2 separate regions of the Homo sapiens genome follow, and region 1 is linked to region 2. The links come from fine-mapping of genetic effects on gene expression. Tissue or cell type: tibial artery. Region 2 holds a variant in brackets; the other region holds the start of a gene. All regions are shown on one strand. Distances are from middle to middle.

Region 1 (5,000 bases), 360 kb after region 2:
CACCAGGCCGCCCTGGCCCACGTCCCCGGGGTGGCCTAGCTGAGCCAGGTTGGGCTGGCGCAGCCGCTGCTGCTGATTCCGCGACGCCATCTGCTTAATCATGAGGGCCGCGTTTTGGCGCTGCTGCTGCTGCTGCTGTTGCTGTTGCTGTTGCTGCTGCTGCTGCTGCTGTTGCTGCTGCTGCTGCTGCTGCTGCTGCTGTTGCAGGGACTGGTGGTCCGGGGCCGGATGCTGCAGGGGCGGCCCCGAAGGGAAGCTGTCGGGCACAGGCGGTGTGAACTCGCCGGGTAGGCCTGGGTAGGCGGAAGGGGAGAGGTGATTATCCAGAGCGCCGTTGTGCATGCTGCCGTTCCACGAAGCGCAGCGGTCCACTCCCGCGCTGCCCGGAAAGTCGAAGCGCGGCCTCTTGGCCACGTTCATGTAGGGGGGCGCGTCGAAATGCTGCAGCCGCTGGTTGGGCGCCTGCTGCGGAGGAGGATGCTGCATGCTGAAAACAGGCTCGGAATAAGGGTGCATGCTCCGGTTCTCCAGCCGGTGGATGGGATACTCGAATTGCGCGTGCTGGCTGGGCAGCATGGGGCCTCCGTCCTGCAGGCCGCCGCTGGGCGTGCCCGCCTCGCCCTGCTGGGGCCGAGGGAGCGCAGGCGGGCACGAATTTTGTCGGACTAGAAGCCCGGGTGGCGGCGGCGGCTGCTGCTGTGGCGGCTGCTGCGGGGGCTGCTGCTGAGGGGGTGGCGGGGCCTGCTGGGGAGGCTGCATTAACGGGTGCCTGGAGCCCACTGAGGGCTCCAGACCCACAGGCATCTTTCTGGCCCCACTGAACCTCTCAAAGAACACACCATGCTGCTGCTGCTGCTGCTGGGGCTGCTGCTGCTGCTGGGGCTGCTGCTGCGGTGGCTGGGCGTGCATTTTGGACAAGCCCACCATGCCCGCAGCTCTGGGCATGGCCGAGGCGCCCGGGAAAGCGCCCCCAGGAACCTGGCGACCCGCTGCATAATGAGGCAGCTGCCCTTCGGAGTCAGAGGGCGAAAACATGTCAAAATGTCCCGAGGGCGCCTCGCCCGGGTAATTGTATTCCAGCGAGTCGACGGCTCCTTGGTTCGTCACCCTCCGTGGCTCCAGACTGTGGGAATCGGAGCCGCTGGAGGACGGCAGGCCGTGGAAGGAGGCGGCTCGGTTAGGGCTCTGGTCCAGCGGCAGGCATGGGGCCGGCACGGCGTGGCTGGAGGCACCTGAACTGTGGAAGTCCGGGAGGTTCCCCGGTCGCTGCGGGCCGAAGCTCTCAGGCCCCTGGCTCTCCGCCATGTGCTCATAGCCCTCGGCGAAGGGCGGCTGGCTGCCCAGGCCTCCGGCTGCGCCGCCGTAGCCGAGCAGGCGACCCCCGTGCAGGCACGAGGCCCCGGGGTCCGGGCCACCGAAGTTGCCCCCAAAGTGGGGGTGATGCTGGTGGGGATGATGACTTCCCGGGTGGCCGTGGTGAGGCTGCTGGCCGCCAAAGAAGCCGTGCACAGGCTGCGCTTGCAGCCCCCCTGCGTGCAACTCCGAGTGGCCGCGCGCGTGGAAGCCGTAGGGCTCCATGTTCATGCCCAAGATCGGGGGTTCGCCCAGCGCGCTCATAGCAGGATCCACAGGGCCAGGGGGCCCCCCAGTGTGGAAAGCCGGGGCCTTAAAGTGGGTGTTCATGCTCAGTCCGGTCTCGTTAAAGTTCCTCTCGCCCTGGCCAGCGTTCCTGCTGTTGACCTGGGGCTCGAATTGGTCCAGCCCAAACATACTTGGCGGGGGGCAGAGGGGGATCAATAGGGCATGACAGCCGGCTCTCCGCGGCGCGCCTCCGGCCAGCTACTCGTTCCAGCCCAGGATTGGGCGCTCCGGGACGCTCAGCACCGCGGGGGCTCAGCGCGCACCTCCACCCCGCCTGATGTGAGGGACGGGGGGCGGGGTATTAGCTCCTCTCCTGAAGCTCCGATTCTGCCCGGGGAGGGCCTCTCACATCTTGCGAGGCCGCGGGGCCTCTAGGAGCCGTGTTGGGGGGCCCATGCCCCGGGCGGTTGTCACAGCCGCGGGTGGGTCTGCGGGGAGGGGACGAAGCCGCGGATGAACGGAGACAAAAAGTTAAGTGGGGGGAATGGGGAGGGAAGGGGGTTGGGAGAGCAGAGCGATCACCTTCTCAAGTCCGATTGGGTCTGCTGGGGAGCCCTCAGGACGCCGCCCGCAGCCTCCCGGAGTCCGTGGCAGAGCTGCTAAGGGCAGGGGAGGGAGACCCTTCAAAGCCGCGGCTGGCGCCGGGCACCGACAGAGCGGTCCCTCCCCCCGCCCCCCGGAGTCCCCGCGCCCCGCAGCCCGAGCCTCCACCGAGCACGATCCGCTCGCACAATCCCCGTAGGCTCCGGGCGAGCGGCTGCTGCTTCTTCAGCGGGTCGGAGGACTGGAGGCTCCGCTCGGCATCGCCGGTGCCGGCCCCCGAGCCGAGGACGCAGAGGGGCTGCGAGGCGGCAGGCGCCGGGGGCTGGAGCCGAGGGTCGGGGAAAGGCGCGGCTCCTCTGCTCGGCAGCGGGTGCGCTGCGTTCGGCGCGCAGCTTCGCGGCCACGTCCGCCGCCTGCCGCTTCTGTTCTCCGCCGTTGGGTGTCTGAGTTCGCCGGAGTCTCCGCGCACCGTTGCAGGCGCGGGAGGGCAGCGAGACGAGGGGTTGGGTCGCTCCAAGGCTCCGGTTCCCTGCCTCCGCGCTGAGGTGCTTCGCGAGTCCCTCTCGGACCTGAGGGAGGGGGGCGTACGCGGGTCGGGGGGCCACGCCGGGCGAGCAGGCTAAGGCGTTCCCGCTGCGCTCTCAGAGCCCGGAATGGGGGGAGGGGGGCGCGGGGGCAGCTCTGGGGGGTCTGCGCACCCCTCTCCCGACTAGCGGGGGGGCTCTGCGTGGGGCGTTCCGAGGGTCTCGGCTCCCCTCTCTGTGTCTGCCTCTCGCCCAGCGCCGGGAGAAGCAGCAACAAGTTTTGCATTTCAGCAATCAATTTCAGCCATTACATTTGCACCAATCAGCGCCGCCCAAGTTCCGGGCTCGGGGCGGGGCTCGCTCTTAAGGTGGTCCGGGGTCCTGGCTGCCGAAGCCCCCGCCACGAACCCGCACTACCCCAGCTCTGGGGTCCCCTGCGCCCGCCTCTCCTCGGGGTCCGGCGTCAGTGCGCTGGGGGCGCGCCCCGGCCTCCGGGCGCATCGAGCTGGAGAGGGTGCAGGCGGAGGAGAATGGCGGGAGCTTGGCTTTGTTCACCCCCTTCCCATTCACACTGTTCCCAACTCCCCACCCCCAACTGGAGCGAGACCCACCGGGTGGGCAGGGGGCGGGGAGGTGGGCGGTGAGCGGTACGGGGCGCTCAGACAATGAGGTCGCCAGGCAAAGACCCTAGACTCGCCACGGAAAGTCGCTAAGTGTCTACTGCACTTCGGCTCCGGGGTGAACACTCCGTTCTCCGCTAGCGGCGCCCAAGTTAGCCGGCCCTGGGATTTTCTTGGAGGGTAAAGCAGACGGGGAACCTCGAAGTTAGGGTTCTCCTCGAGAGACCTGGGCGCTTGCTCACTCCTCCGTCACTAGGGCGTTCACAATTGTTCCCCTTCCCCACTGCCTGGGGTTCCCGGTTCTCACCGGCCGGCGTGGGCTCCAAGGAGTCACAGTCACTCAGCCACTTTATGGGGGAGCACATCGGTTGAGCCCAGTAACCGGAGCGACTTGCGAGGCGGCTGGGAACCCCGAGAAGACACGCACGAAGAGGGCGCACCCGCCGGGCCGCACACCTTGCCCTGGGCCACCCGGTCCAAGACCCAGACCCTCTGCGGGTGCGAAGTTGGCCTCCTTAAGAGATCAATTAAACTGAAGAGGCCGAGGAATGGAATTGGGCTGTGATACTAAAATCAATAGGAGTAATTTAATATCTGCCCTGCTCTTTATGAAATATTTATCCCAATAATCTTAGTTAAAATGTTTAGATCGTCCTGATCCCCACAGAGGCTGAAATCTATCTTGCAATTAGAAGTTGGAAGTTAGAGGTGATGGAGGATAGAGGTGTTTATTCTGTGCGCCTGTGTGCGTGTGCTCGCGCCTGCGTGCGTGTGTTTGTGCATGCGTGTGTGTGTGTGTGTGTGTTCCTCCCTAAAGTGTGTGTAGGGAAGGAGGGGGGAGAAGGCCTTTAATTTTCCTTGCCATAAAATAGCACGAGGCGATTTTGCTAGCAGATTCGCATTCTTAGGAGAAGGGCGAAAAAAGAACTTTCTTTGAAGTGCCCCTGATATCGCTATTAAATCTAAATAAAATTAAGCGTGGTGTATGAAAATGCCTTTCCCCCCCCACAAAAGAAAGTGTTTATCGCCCGAGTCTGTCTAGCGTTTGCTAAATTACGCATGAAATCTGAAATGAAATAAACGTTATAATAAAACCAACCCCTGAGCCCTTTTTATTTAAAAACCTTAGATTAAGCACTCCACCGTCGCGGGCAGGAGTTAAAAAGTTACCATGTCGTACGCGCAGATTCATTGCTCCCCTGAGTTGCGGCTAGGAAGGCAGTGCTAAGTATGCCAGAACCGACATGCCGGGGGTGGGGGGAAATGGGCTCAACTTTGGGGTAGCGGCAGAATTCCTAAGAAATTGCCCCCCGCCCAAAAAAAATTTTAATTAAAAATAAACAAACAAGAAAAAACAACAACTTTAAAACTCAGCCAGAGCAAGCTCAGATCCAAGACCTTTCCCGGGGCCTTCCTGTTGTGGAAGTTTACAGACATATATATTTTTTCTTTTTTGAAATTAAAAATGAAAATTACCCCCATCAAAAATGGGGTCCATAAATAAGCATAGGGAATAAGTATTTGTACAGGGCGGTGGAGTTTTTAAAGGATTTTTCTGCAGGATCAGGTTGTTGGTCTGTGATTAAATATTGATTTTGTGTAATTAGTTTTCATGTGAACTATCCTCTTGCTGATAGCTTAGAGGTTTCAGAACTAGAAAAGAAATGGAATT
Region 2 (7,803 bases):
TTCCCACTCTTCTCAAATTTTTCACCCTCCTTGGCATCCCTGGAGAAGCCTCAGAGACCATCAAGTCCCCGGCGAGCTCATTTAACAGACAGGGAGACTGAGGCCGGGGTAGGAGGTGAGGGAGACAGAACTTGCCCAAGGTCACCTGGGGCCAGGAAGTGAATCAAACTCAGGCCTGTCTGAGGCCAGGCCGGGGATTCCGACCTCCTCCTGTTAGGATTCCGGAAAATCATCTCAGGATCTTTTTCGGTTTTCTTTTTTTTCTGGCCCTTACTTGCTCTTCTCTGTTTGTCTCTCTCCATTTAAAAAAATTCTCTCCTTAATCCTTCCTCTCCTTGCCCCTACTCCTAAGACTCTCTCTCTGTCTCTTTCTCAGGGGCTCACTCTCTCTTTCTTCATTTCTCTACCTCCTTTTCCCTCCCACACCATCTCCATCATTCTCTCTCCCTTACCTCAATTGTCTCCTTGTCCTCCCTTTTGCTCCTAAAGCCCTTCCCCTCTCTTCTGCACCTTTCTTGCAGGCCTACTCATGCCCTTCACACACTCACCTAATTTGGGGGCTGCCCTCTGCCTCCCTGCCTCCACCAGCATCGCCTTTGCCAGATCCCCTACCTTTAGCTCCAAAGCACATGCCACCTAGAGGGTCCTAAACCAGCTAGGAAGCCCCCACCCGGGACCACCAGGCCCCAACCCCGGCTGTATTTGCAGCCACAGAGGAGCCCCCCACCCAGAGTGAGAACAGACACCTGATGGAAGCGGGGCTGGGGCCGAGCAGCTGTGAGCCCTGATTAAAGCACGCACTTCTTCCCGGCTGCCTGGTTTGCATTACATCCGGCCGGGCGGGCTCCAGGCTGACAGCTGGACGCACTTTTCCAGGGCGCAAGGAAGGCAGTCAGACCGTGTGTGTGCACACATGCGTGGGCTCCGTCCCGGACAGGCCCGTAATGGCTTTCACATGGAGAATGCAGCAAACTTCTCCAACCTCAAGCACCGATTTTCCTGTCAAGAGATGTTGGATTCCAAAAAAAAAAAAAAAAAAAAAATTATAATCACAAAGAAAAGGGCTTTGGAATTTGCACAAAAGGGTCAGACCCTGTGAAGTCAGATTCTGAAATGGAACCAGAATCTGGAGACAATGGAAGGAGGAAGAAAGAGGGAGGGAGAAAGACCCTAGTGTCTGTCCTCAGCGGCTGCGGCCAGGGCTGGAGAGGTGTTCATGGCCCAGGAAGGACAGAAAAGAAACCACTGCCTGAGGGTCTGGCTCAGCTCTGCAATCCCTCCTCCCCAGGTAGGACAGACAGCCCAGGGGTATGAGGCCAGGTTCCAGCATTTGACTGTGGGTTTGAATCCAAACTCCTTTGCTGACTGCAGTGATAGAACTTACCAAGTATCAGCTTCCCCCTCTGTTAAACGGGGCTCCTGTGCCTCATTCCTGGGGCTTCAGAGAAATTCGCTGAGCTGAGACTTGCACACCCGTCAGCTCATGGCTTGAACCTCTCCTAGCTGTCGTGAGCTTGTCCTCCCTGGAGAAGAGTGCTGGAGCAGAAGGCAACAAACCCCGATCCATTCTGGCTTTGCCTGTTGGGTTATCTCAGGCTCAGTTTGCCCATCTGCAAAATGCGCACACAGGACACTGAGCCCTCCTGCGTCCTGCTAGTTTCCTGACCTGCCCTAGAGCCTGACTCACAGAGGGACTCACGGGACAGGGCACCACTGCTCCTCCCTGTTTCATGGCCTTTGCCCATGCACACCCCCTGCCTGGAACACTCTTCCTCTGACCCAAAGGCCCCTTGGGAGATGACCCCTCCTGGAAAAGGCCTCTCTGACCCCAGCAGATAGGATTTCACTCGTGTAGCCCTGCACATCCTTTTTATGACACCTATTACCTCTAGGAAGCCTCATTCAATATCTTCCTGGGGATTTTTGGACCCTAGGCTCCGTGACAGGCCCGAACCTGCCATGGTCCCCTTTGCCCCTGCTGAAGCCCGCAGCACCCAGCACTACGATTGCATGTCTAATCACAGGAAATCCACTTTGGGAGGCTGAGACAGGAGGATCCCTCAAGGCCAAGAGTTCAAGACCAGCCTGGGCAACATAGTGAAACCCCGTCTCTACATAAATAAAAATAAAAAATAAAAACAAATTAGCCAGGTGTGGTGGCACATGCCTGTAGTCCTGGCTACTACGGAGGCTGAGGTGGGAGGATCACTTGAGCCCAGGAGGTTGAGGCTTCAGTGAGCTACGATTGTACTACTGCACTCCAGTTGGGGTGACAGAGTCAGGTCCTGTCTCTAATGAATAATAATAATAAACTATTTATTTTTATTATATAAATGTATAGTAACTATTATTATTATAAGATATTAAATACTTATAGAACACCAGTCATGCGTGAGGCCCTGCAGTCACAGCAGTGAATGAGTGAATGAATGAATGAATGAATGGTGATAAATGAAAGCACGAACTTATAGGACACTTATTGGTGTACGTCTGAGCTGAGTCCTCTACATGAATCATCTTATTTAATTCCCACATCAACACCAGAAGGCAGGTGCTGTTATTATCCCCACTTCACAGATGAGGAAGCTGAGGCCCAGAGAAGTTAGGCAACTTGTAAAAGGCCACACAGCCAGGGCAGTGGAGACAAAATCCAATCCCAGGCAGTCTGGTTCCAGAGCTTATGGGCCCAGCCACCAGACTAGACTGGAGCCCACAGGAGGGGATCATGAGGGTTGTTTGAAGACATGTTTCCTTCTGCCCGCCTGGGACAGCAGGTACCTGGGAGTAAGTGCCGGGGCTGGCTCATTTCTGCAAGGAGCAGCCTGGGATGCAGAACAGAGAGGCAGGGGCTGGCCAGCCTGAGAAGTGGCTCCAGATCCTCCATGGGACAGTTTGCGCCCATTTGACCACTGTGAGATGTGGAATCAGACATGACTCTGAATCTCCCCTTCCCTGCCCTTCACCTAGAAAGGGACCGCTGACGTTCTGTGTGACCTCTGGCAGAACACCTACCCCCAGAATCTTGGTGTGCTCATCTGGGCAATGGGAATGATAAAATCTGCCCTGCAAACACACACCACACACATCCACCCAGCTAGGGGCTGGGCATGGCCAGGAGCTGAACCCTGGGGACTGTTTCAGGGGCAGCCAGGGCAGCAGCTGGGGAAGGACTCGAGCCTCCCCAGCCCAGCTGGCTTCTGGCGGGGGTCC[A/G]GCCTGGCCACAGCCACCAGTCCTCCAGGCTTAATATCCTTGGCGGCAAGGCTAGAATAAGCTGTCTTTCAAGAGGGGAGCTTTATTTATACGCCGATGCCAGTCGCGCTCCTGCTATTAGAAATCTCATCGGCTCCTTTGATTTAGGGCTTACCACAAGCTGCCAATCGCGGCCGCCTCCTGGCCCAGCCCTGCAGCTCGGCCAGCCTTGTTCCGGCTCACAGCAGCAGAAACGAACATTATTTAATTTCCCGCCAGCGGGCAGTGAAAGCCGGAGCTCCCCCTCCCGCTGGACGTATTTATTTAATCCTTTTTGGAAATAGTGTCTGGGGATGGATCTGAAGGCCAGCCCTGGGGACTCTGCTAATCCCCCAGGCCTGGGCAGGCGGGGCCTTGGGGTGGAGACTGAGTGAGGCCTCTTGGGAGGATTCTAGAGGAACCTCAACCTGGGAGCCCAGGGCGATCTGCCACTCACTGACCCCTGAGGTGTCTGCTTGGGAGGTGTCACCAGCAGACTTCGAGATAAGCACTGCAGGGCTAGTTTATCTGGGAGGGGGATCCCAGGATGTATCAACAGGGGATGGGGACTTGAGGCAAAGAGGGGAGGTGGTCAAGTCTGGCTGCCATTAAGCAGCCAGTTTTTGCTGTGGGTGACTGGGGCTCAGTTGTGCTGAGGACCTTTTGCAAGAACACTCACCTCAGAGTCATCCGCCCAAGGAGCAAGGAAACCAGGGTATTTATACTCCAGCTCCCATCTGTCATTGGTGGAGGGCTGCTTCCCCCAGGAAGGGGCATTTATTCCCTACACTCCTCTTCCTTCTACACTGGGGCCAAGCAGGCGCCTGCAGACATCTCCCCACCTTGCAGGCGAGTGGTGAGTGACAGGAGGATATGGGCAGAGCACCAACCACTTGAAGCTATTTATCCTCCTTGTCACCTGTCAACTCTTTCTCTTTCTTTAGCCTCTGCCCAAAAGACACCTCCTCCAGGAAGCCCTCCTTGACCACCCCAGGAAAAATCTTATCCATTACCATCTTGTCATTCAGATATTTCCTTCCGAACATATAGCATGTGCCAGGATTATCCATTTACTTACTTGTTTGTGGGTTTACTGCCTATCACTCCCACTAGACTGGACGCCTCCTGAAGCAGGGGGTCATGTGTATCTTAATCTGCATTGCAGCCCTTGCACACAGTAGGCACTCAACAACTATTTTTGGAATGGGGGTGGGGACTCCTGATTTATGTAATTCAGGCTCTGCGTCGCTTACCACAGTGCTTGGCAGTAGGCTAGGCTCCTTACATGTGATGATGGTTCCTTTAACACTCAGCCAAGCTTTCAAGGATGGGATCAGCACACCCATTTGACAGATTGGAAAGGTGAATGTACCGAGAAGATGCTGCATCAAACTCAGCTGTGGGTTTGCATAGCACCAAATCTTACTCCGCTCTCCCTGCAGCCCCAGAGAGTGGATGGAAAGGTTTTCTGGGTTTCATTTCACAGCTGTGAGAATTGGGGCCCTCTGGGATACGCCCCCATCAGGCGGGGAGACAACGGGGATCCAGGCCACATAGAGTCTATGATGTCTTAAGCACTGGAGGGTATCAGTAGAGAGAAGTATGAGAAGTATGAGAAAGTGCTGAAGAAATCACGGGATGCTTCCTGGAGAAGGTGACTCTTCTTTTCCTATTATAAATATTAAAATGAGAAAGAAAATCAGTCTCTTTGGGAAAGCAGGAAATTCAAAATATTTGATGACCCAGAAGCCCTGGCAGCACAGAGCCTAGAGACTTGTTTGCACAAAACACTCCCAAAGCAGAAATGTATTATATGTAATATAAAGTATAATACGAGGTTTTATATGTCATCATTTTAATACGTCATGATGCCAAATTGTCCAAGCTAAAAGGCTAAATACAGAAAAGTTAAAGATGAAAGGGGAAGAGGAAGACACTGAGGTCAAGGTGGCAAAAGTAGACAAAGTGCAGGAGGGAGGAGGCATTTTCCCTGGGCAATTGATTCAGCACCGAGGCGCTTCTGGAGCCTTTGTCTATGTGACGTGGTTGTGGCAGCAGCCCGTTGAGTGTTAATTGTCCATGAGTTCTAATAGGTGTAATATTCTCGAGTGTTACATGTGCATTAATTAAGTAACACTGCATTTAGCCCCAAATCATGCAAAAGGCTTGTGTGGTGTTTGCAGAGGCATAAATATCCTCACAGTTAGTGAGTTGCTGGCACTGTTTTCTCTCTGCCCACAGCAGTCCAAAAACATAGATTGAGAGAAATGGGAAGTGGTGGAAACAGGAAGGAGTGCGAAGGGTGAGGAAAGCCTCTGCCACCCTCCAGACCAGGAGGAAAGAAGAATTAAAGATGAGATACATACATAGTATAGCCAGTGGGCTTTGAAGTCAGACAGATGCAAGTTTGAATCCCAGCACAGTCACTGACTTACTGTGTGATCTTGGACAAGTGGCTTGGCTTCTCTGAGCCTCAGAAAGCAAGAATCATAATAGGACCCTCCCCTTAAAAAGTGGTTGTGAGCAGTCAGTGGGATGAGGCATGGAAGGAGCTTAGTGCAAAGTGCTTTATAATGTATGGGATGATGGGGGTCGCGGTGGGAGTGGTAATTTAGGGGTCCTGTGACAGACCTGGATTTCGCTAAATTGGGATGAGAGCCCAGGTGAGGGCTGGTGTAGGGGATACTTTGGGATTATGGGAAGCAAGAACCGCATTCTTTTCTGGGCAGTACTGAGCTCCCCATATGGGAAGGAAGCACCTAACCAGGAGAGGTAGCTTGGGGTGCGAAGAGGATAGAATTGTCCCAGGATGACAGTACAGATAGGCAGTCTAATCCTTGTTCTGCCTCCTACAGGACATAGCTTTGGCTTGACCCTCTGCTGCTGTGAGCTGCACTCTGTGAAATGGGATCATGTTCTCAACCAGCCTCCCTGACATGAGTTGATTGCACCAAAACCCTATGGATAAAAGAGTTGTTGCCATAGAAAAAGAGACAAGCGCGATTTGCAGAGCAAGCTGAAGCCCCAGAGATCTTCCCTGTCCCCACAGACCCCTGCTGTGCCCATTTGGTCAGCCCTGCCTCGAGCCCAGTGGGATCCCCCCGCTACGCCCCATCCACATTTCAAATGACAGCATTGTCAGGCTTTGGCTATCTTCCCCTTCTGCAAATGGGAAACTGAGGCTGCAAGAAGGGAAGTGACTTGCTCAAAGACACCTTGCAATTTGGTGGCAGCCTGGAGCTCAGACCCCCTGACTCCCATGCAGGGCCTACCACTCCATCCCCCTCAAAACCCACAAAGATTCCGTTCTGTTCTGTCCTCAGCCAACGCGGTGGCCCACCCACCTTGGGCGACCAGAGCCAAGAGGTTGTTTGTCTGTTTTAGACACTCTCGTCGCTGTGTTTCTTCTTTATCTTTTAAGGGCTCGAGACTCAGGAAAACCAACTCAACGTGCATAATTTGGCAATTATTTCTTGTGTTCATCCTCACGGCCGTGGCTGCATACAGATATTGGAATTTGCATAAAACAATCTTGCTACCAGTCCCACGGCTTCCTGGGAAGAAGACGCCCAGGTGGGGGTGGGGAAGGTTTCAGGTCGCGTCCACCTGTTCCCCCTCTGTCCCCGGCCACAAAGGGAAATAAAGGTAACACATGGTGTGGAGAAGGGTGCTCAGCCCTCGGCACCCCTGCCCAAGGGAGAGAGAAGGGGTGGGACCCACTGGGGCCTCTGTGGCAGGATAAATGCCCCCTGGCAGCCTGGAACCCTTCCGATTAGTATTCAGCAAGCATCTCGCTCAGAAAGGATTAATGGAGTCTGATGTTTAATATCCTGGAGAACAATTAATTTGCCCACAGTTTTGTCATGGTTGAAAGTCAAATGCTGGAACAGATCGATGCTCGCATGGCGAGCTGGAGCCCAGAAACCCTGGGCAGGAGCAGAATTTTAATGTTCCCATCCTGGCCCCCCTTTCCCCCCCATTCCCAGCACACCCACTTTCTAATAGTTCTAAAAGCCACTTTATCCCTGCACAGTGCTTGCTGTCTTCACAAGAGTCCACTGGGAGCCTTCGAAGGCAAAATCCGGCCCCCACAAGACTTCCATTATGGGATTGAAGTTGGCCGGTCCTTCTTGGGGGTCTGACCTCCGTTTTATTCCAATTGTCCTCGCCAGCGCCCCAGCCCTACCCTCTTCCCCGGCAGGGCCGCTGATGTCTGGACATTGTCACCAAGACACTTGTTCTTGAAAAGACACCGGGGCGAAGAGGAACGTGGTGGGGTTGCAGTGGTGATTTGTTTATTTATTCGCTTGCCGGAGTTTTGCTGTCTGTTTACGCCTCACTGTTGGCTTGGCAAGGACACTGCAGTGTGGTGGTGGGCTTGGGAACCCAGAAATCAATAGGCTCACCAGGAACGTGGGCTTTGTTTAAAAATCATTCCCAGCTGGGCAGGATGGCGGAGGCGACTTTGGCAATTTGATCCTGGCTGGTGGTTTAAAGGCCACGGGTTGGAGATGACATGGGAAGACAGGGTGCCAGAGGGGAGGTGGCTTAGAGGCCATCACGGCTGACCCTCTC

The links. PIP is the estimated chance that this variant, and not a neighbour inherited with it, causes the effect.
Region 1: it holds the start of MN1, and the variant in region 2 is fine-mapped to the expression of MN1 in tibial artery (GTEx, PIP above 0.99).

What each region holds. Positions count from the first base shown.
Region 1 is chr22:27,798,774-27,803,773 of GRCh38, forward strand. MN1 (MN1 proto-oncogene, transcriptional regulator) reads right to left here and starts at 2,983. Exons shown (of 2, transcript NM_002430.3): 1 at 1-2,983. The coding sequence starts at 1,770. RefSeq lists enhancers at 1-503, 504-1,049.
Region 2 is chr22:27,435,164-27,442,966 of GRCh38, forward strand. It overlaps LOC105372980 (a long non-coding RNA gene), which reads left to right and starts at 1,129. Exons shown (of 3, transcript XR_938123.4): 1 at 1,129-1,288; 2 at 4,715-4,882; 3 at 6,084-6,771. RefSeq lists an enhancer at 2,671-3,334. The variant A/G (reference allele first, on the strand shown) is at 3,211.